2 linked regions of the Homo sapiens genome follow. The protein of the gene in region 1 interacts with the protein of each later gene in a pairwise test. Each region holds a gene or a part of one and is shown in the gene's direction. Other genes may lie near its edges.

Region 1 (3,251 bases):
CGGCTGGGTGCGATGGCTCATGCATTTAATTCCAGCACTTTGGGAGGCTGAGGCGGGAGGATCACTTCAGGCCAGGAGTTGGAGGCTGCAATGAGCTATGATCATTGCACTGCACTCCACCTTGGGCAACAGAGTGAGACCCTGTCTCAAAAAACAAAAACGAAAACAAAAGTGCTTTCTTCCGGCCCAGCATATTTGGGTGAGTCTGCTGGAGGCAATGGACGCTGCAGCCAATCAGACCCCTGGTAGCAGAGCCTGGGCCCACCAAGGGCCCAGCAGAGGCAATGTGGAGTACAGGGCCTGCTGGTCGTTTGGTCACACCCACTCATGCTGGTCTCCACATGCCCTTCTGTGTCCCCAGAGGTCGACAGTGTGGGGAGTTGGAGTGACCCGGCTGGATGTGACCCCCAGGACAGAATGGTGCTGGACTCAGGGGCTCAGGCGTATGATCAGGCACCCCCCAGCCCGCCTACCAGTCCCCCATCCCTGCGCCATAGGCTGAAGCCCTCAGACCGAGATGGGCCACCACTGTACCCCTGGTCTCAGTCCCTGGCCTTGCCCCTGGCTCTGGCAGTCCCCCCAGCGCTGCAGCCCCAGCCTGAGCAGCAGCCGTTCTCACAGATGCTCCTGGGCCACCGTGGCCACATGCGTCGCAGTGAGAGCACCTACTCTGTAAATAGTACTGGCCGGCGGGGGCGTGGCACCCTGGGACGGCCTCCACCTGGACGGGGACGGAACCCAGGTGGGGGCACCCTGCGGCCTGCAGCCTCCCTGCCTCACATTGCTAAGACTCAAAGGGATGCAGGCCATATTGCCAGCAAGAGCCCCTGCATGTTGGTGGCCCTGCGGCCAACCAACATGGACCGTGAGCGAGACAAGTTCTTCCAGTCCCATTACACCTACAATCCACAGTTTGAGTACCAGGAGCCCATGCCCACGGCTGTGCTGGAAAAGTACTGCGAGGCCTCTGGACAGTTCATCCATCAGGTCAGTCCAGCCTCCCCACCGTATCCTGGCCCTGACCACCCAAGGGGCTTGTCCTGACCAGCCACTGTGGCCCCGTGTACAGGCAGTTGGCATCATTGAGGCTGTTCTGGAGAAGTTTGGAACCTATGAACACTTTGAGGCTGCCACTGGGGGGCAGCTGCTCACCAAGTGCCAGATATGGTCGATTGTGCGCAAATACATGCAGAAGGAGGGCTGCGCTGGGGAGGTGAGCTTGCCTGCAGAGCCCTTCCTCTACATGCCCCAAATCAGGGTGTCTTGTGGGCGGTCCCAGGTCCAGCTCCACACCTGACCCACCCCTGCCCCTGCCCCAGTGAGGTGGGAGCTGGTTCTGAGCAGAGGTGATGAAGGGTGGGTGCCCTGGCCAATTGTCTGGCCTCGCTGCCCTGTGGCATCATTGGGTCCACCTGCACCCTGGCCCCAGGCTGGTGGCCATGGCTCAGAGCACTGCCACCTGCAGGTTGTGGTGCAGCTGAGTGAGGACCTGCTGTCCCAGGCAGTGATGATGGTGGAGAACAGCCGGCCCACATTGGCGATCAACCTGACCGGAGCCCGCCAGTACTGGTTGGAGGGCATGCTGCGGCATGAGATAGGTCAGGGTGTGGGTATCCGGGCAGATGGGTAGGCATGAAAGGGGCCTGGGAGCTGGGAGGGGTGGGAAGGAGGGGCCCCAATAACTCCCCTTTTTGTTTCTCCCCCTTCCCTCCTGAGGTCGGGGCTTTCCCTTCCTGAGCAGCCACCTCCCGCCCTCTGCTTACAGAGGTAGGCCAGAACATGCCTGCCCATGCTCTGGGCTCGCTCTCATCTCTTGGTCCTTTCGGGTATATTTTTCTCTCTCCACTTCCTCTCCGACTTCTCCCAACAGTGCGGGCAAGGCTGGTCAGGCCCTGACCGGCCAGAGAAAGAACCCTCAGGGTCCCACCAGGCCAGCCACCACGCTGGCCCTCCAGGGTGGATGGAAGGCCAGGTCCTGGGAATGGACTTGACTTGAGGACACATGGCACCTGGTTTAGGAGGGGACTGGCCAGTTTGGGCAGGGGGGTGCAGGGCACTAACCACTATTCCTATCTGTCTGTCCCTCTTCCTCGAGAATCCTGTTGCTCTGGGCAAGAGTGATTTTTACCGGGGGCATCAGCATGACTGTTCAAGATGATATGGGCACCCAGGATGTTGGGCAGGGTGGTATATGTATTCTTGTGCCCAGGAGGGCTGGGGGCAATGTCAGTTTGGGAGAGTTCGTGCACGTGTGTGGGTGCGTGGGTGTAGGGTGGGGGGCGGATGGGTGGGAGAGGATTCATGTATGTGAGCCTCTGTGGATCCTTGGGTGCGAGTCCACAGGAGGAGGAGCTTCACGCTGCCTGGGGCTGGGAGAGCCTGTGTGCGAGCCTGAGTTCAGGAGCATGAGGATGGAAGTGTCGCGGCCAGAGCCCCGGCCAGATGGAACAGGGCCAGGGCTGGGCTCGCAGGCGGGTCCCCGAACGCCCCGCCCAGCGCCGCCTCCCCTCGCCTTCCCCGCAGGCACCCACTACCTGCGGGGCGTGAACAACGCGCGCCAGCCGTGGCACAACGCGGAGGGCCGGCTGCGGTACGGGCTGCGGCCGGCGAACCCCACGGAGGAGGGCCTGGCCAGCCTGCACAGCGTGCTGTTCCGCAAGCAGCCGTTCCTGTGGCGCGCTGCACTGCTCTACTACACCATCCACCGCGCCGCGCGCATGTCCTTCCGTCAGCTCTTCCAGGACCTGGAGCGCTACGTGCAGGACGCCGATGTGCGCTGGGAGTACTGCGTGCGCGCCAAGCGCGGCCAGACCGACACCTCGCTGCCAGGTGTGCGCCAGCGCGGGGGAGGTGCCTAGAGCCGGGGTGGGGGCGGGGCTTCGGGCGAGGGGCGGGGCTCACCGCCCTCCTGCCCTCCCAGGTTGTTTCAGCAAGGACCAGGTGTACCTGGACGGCATCGTGCGCATTCTGCGACATCGCCAGACCATCGATTTCCCGTTGCTGACCTCACTGGGCAAGGTGAGGGGCTGTGGACCTTCAGAGGTCCCAGCCAGCTCCCTGCCTTGCTGTAGAATTCCCTGAGCCTCGGATTGGTGCTAGACCGAGGGCTGGGTGTCAGGCCTGTGGTGGTAGGGGGGAGCGTGGGTGGAAGTGAGAACAGGAGATGAAATGACTCTGGCAGCAAAACCAGGTGCTTAACGGAGGCTGCAGGTGTATGTAGATACTGCATCTCAAAGGAGATGAGCATTCCA
Region 2 (3,819 bases), on another chromosome or scaffold:
TTCCATGATGGATGTCCAGGCTGACTGGTATGGAGAGGACTCAGGTGAGCTCCCTTAGCATTCATCAGCCCTGCCAGTGATTGAGTACACACTGTCTGTGCCTTGTGTTCTCCCATCATCATGATCATTATCACCATCATCATTGTCACTACCAACATTATCAGTACCATCATCACCAGTACCATCATCATTACCATCATCACCAGTATCGTCATCATTACCATCATCACTACCATCATCACCAGTACCATCATTACCATCATCACCAGTACCATCATCATCATTACCATCATCTCCAGTATCACCATCATCAGTACCATCATCATCACTATCATCATCACCAGTACTATTCATTACCATCATCACCAGTACCATCATCATCATTACCATCATCTCCAGTATCACCATCATCATTACCATCATCATCAGTACCATCATCATCACTACCATCATCACCAGTACCATCATCATTACCATCATCACCAGTACCATCATCATCACTACCATCATCACCAGTATCACCATCTCATTATGATCATCATCAGTCACCATTATTGCCACCACCACCACCACCAATATGCATTAATTGAGCACCTGCTATATGCAGGGCATTATTTCTTCATGTATGTTTGTGTTTTACCTCTACAACTGGAATGTAAGTGTGTTGGGGGCAGTTTGGAGACATGGGAGGAACCCACTCTCTTCCACTAACCGGCAGTGGGACCTTGGTTAAATCATTGAATCTCTTTGAGTCTGTTTTGTCATCTGTAAAACGGGAATAATCATCCCTGCCCTGCCTCTCTCACAGGTTTGTTGTGGGGACCAAATGAGAGAGTTTTCAGAACTTTTTCTCACATATCATCTTAGATTTCCTCTATGCTGGGAGGTCAGTTTTGTGTGGGGAGAATGAGATTGAAGTGATGTCCAGAGATATATGCTCCAGAGATTTATACTTCTCTGTGTCAGCCAAGGTGCTTGTCAGAGACTAGGCACCCAGCCTGGCATGCTTGATGATGCCATCTACTTGAGACTATTTGATTGATTGATTGATTGATTGATTGAGACAGGGTCTCGCTCTGTCACCCAGGCTGGAGTGCAACGGTGTGATCTCGGCTCACTGCAACCTCTGCCTCCCAGGTTCAAGTGATTCTTCTGCCTCAGCCTCCCGAGTAGCTGGGATTACCGTAGGCGCATACCGCCACGCCCAGCTAGTTTTTGTATTTTCAGTAGAGACAGGGTTTCACCATGTTGGCCACGCTAGTCTCAAACTCCTGACCTCAAGTGATCCTCCTGCCTTGGCCTCCCAAAGTGCCAGGATTATAGGCGTGAGCCACTGTGCCCGGCTGACTTGAGACTATTTTAGAGCCAGTATTTGACATCATGTGAGCTAATTTTTTACATCCTTTGGTGGGCTTTTGCGTTTTAAGAGAACCTGCTTGTTTCTTTGAACAGTTATGAGAGTTGAGTTAATATGGCTAACTCCTCTTAACAGGTGAGGTAATTGTGTTATAAGGTGTCTTGTAGGAGACAAAAATAAACTTGGCTGCCAACTTACTGATGAAACGTGGCTTCCAAACCTTAAGCCAAGGCTGGGCGCGGCGGCACGCGCCTGTAATCCCAGTTACTCAGGAGGCTGAGGCAGGAGAATAGCTTGAACCTAGGAGGCGGAGCTTGCAGTGAGCCGAGATCGTGCCACCACACTCCAGCCTGGGTGACAGAGCGAGACTACTTCTCAAAAAAAAAAAGAAAGAAAGAAAGAAAAGAAAAGGAAAAAAATACCAGAACCTCAAGCCAAGAAATTCATGAATTGCAGTCTAGTAGTGAAATATTGAGTAGTGAAAGTCTTTTCCTTTTTTTAGCTTCTGATTCTCTGAAGTGAAAGTCTTTTAAATAAAGGGAGATCAGCTATTTTTATTCATTACTAAATGGCTGTCTTGAGACTTTTTTTTTTTTTTTTTTGAGACAGGGTCTTACTCTGTTGCCCAGACTAGAGTGCAGTGGCATAATCACAGCTCACTGCAGCCTCGACCTCCCGAGCTCAAGTGATCCTCCCACTTCAGCATCCCAAGTAGCTGTGATTACGGGCATACACCACCACACCCAGCTAATTTTTTGTATGTTTGATTTATAATAGAGACAAGGTCTCCCTATGTTGCTCAGTTTGGTCTCAAACTCCTGGGATCAAGCAATCCTCTCACCTCAGCCTCTCAAAGTGCCAGGATTACAGGTGTGAGCCATTGTGCCTGGCCTGTCTTGAAACTTTCTAATTTCTGGGTTTATTTTATTTTAATTTTTTTGAGGCAGAGTCTCACTCTGTTGCCCAGGCTGGAGTGCAGTGGTGCGATCTCAGCTCACTGCAACCTCTGCCACCTGGGTTCAAGCGAGTCTCCTGCCTCAGCCTCCCGAGTAGCTGGGATTACAGGCACGTGCCACCATGCCTGGCTAGTTTTTGTAGTTTTAGTAGAGATGAGGTTTCACCATGTTGGCCAGGCTGGACTCGAACTACTGACCTCAGGTGATCCCCCTGCCTCGGCCTCTCAAAGTGCTAGGATTACAAGGATGAGCCACTATGCCCGGCTTCAAATTTCATTTTTTTAAAAAGCAAGAGCACTCAGTGTGTCTGATTAAAACAAGACTTGAAAAACTTGAAAATGGCCAGGTGCAGTGGCTCACACCTATAATCCCAGCATTTTGAGAGGCCAAGGAGGGAGGATTGCTTGAGCCCAGGAGTTTGAGACCAGCCCGGGCAAGATGGCAAAACCCCATCTCTACAAAAAAAAAAAAAAAAAAAAAAAAAAAAAAAAAAAAAAATTGAAAAATTAGCCAGGCGTCATTGCATGTACCCATAGTCCCAGCTACTCAGGAGGCTGAGGTGGGAGGATCACCTGAGCCTGGGAGGTCGAGGCTGCGGTGAGCTGTGATTGTGCTTCCAGCCTCGATGACAGAGTGAGACCTTGTCTCAAAAAAAAAAGGAAAAAGAAAAAAAAAAGAAACACTTGAAAATGCTGTTTCTGGTTCTGAGACACTGGCTTCACCAGCATTGGGAAGATAGTGGCTGCTTCCATGAACACACCGTGGGAACTTGTTCAAATTCTCATTGCTGTGTGTATAATGGCATTTCACAGACTGATCACCCTTTCACATCCACAAGTCTCTCATGGTGTCCCATGCCTTTGGCAGAGGAAATATGGAGAAACTGTTACCTAGAAGGGTTTAGTGAGTTTCGTAAGAATGTAAGTAGTAAGTGGCCCAGCTAAAACCAGAAAACTGGAGTGGCTTCTTTCATTCATTAAACAAACAGTGAAAGCAACACAAGTAGGTAGCGGATTTCAGTGCAATGATTTTTTTCTTTGAACCCCTCTGCATGTAAGCACAAGAAGTATCAGGAAATAGGCATTTGGCTCTGTGCCACTTATAATATATTCAGGTCCTGTCCTTATTGGTCTGGAAAGTCAGAGTTCTTGCTATAAGGTGTTGTGGTGTGGCAAGGCAGCTGCCCTGGCCCCTGGCCATGCCCTGTTGTCTACCATGTTTTTATTTCATTCATACGGCTCCAGGGTATAGTTTTTCCAAGTGCTAAGGCACAGAGTAGGATTGATTTGTTTGGTTATTCATTTATTTGTTCAAATATTTGAGTACCTTTTGTGTGAAGGCATAAAGATAAGTCAGACATGGATGCAGCCCTCAAAGAACTGATAGTGTTGTATAGGAGATAAGACACAAATGTGGGCCGGGCTCAGTCGCTCATGCCTATAATCACAGCACTTTGGGAGGCCGAGGCAGGTGGATCACTTGAGGTCAGGAGTTCAAGACCAGCCT

The links.
Region 2: the proteins of MATCAP1 (region 1) and ZBTB8B interact in binary tests that used the Homo sapiens proteins (3 or more experiments, as listed by UniProt).

The regions. Positions count from the first base shown.
Region 1 is NC_000016.10:67,177,777-67,181,027, reverse strand, and holds part of MATCAP1 (microtubule-associated tyrosine carboxypeptidase 1), read left to right. Parts: intron 1-361; 5' UTR 362-417; coding exon 418-987; intron 988-1,069; coding exon 1,070-1,213; intron 1,214-1,465; coding exon 1,466-1,598; intron 1,599-2,523; coding exon 2,524-2,829; intron 2,830-2,920; coding exon 2,921-3,018; intron 3,019-3,251. UniProt on the Homo sapiens protein: Tyrosine carboxypeptidase that removes the C-terminal tyrosine residue of alpha-tubulin, thereby regulating microtubule dynamics and function. Also able to remove the C-terminal phenylalanine residue of alpha-tubulin TUBA8.
Region 2 is NC_000001.11:32,471,572-32,475,390, forward strand, and holds part of ZBTB8B (zinc finger and BTB domain-containing protein 8B), read left to right. Parts: coding exon 1-44; intron 45-3,819. UniProt on the Homo sapiens protein: May be involved in transcriptional regulation.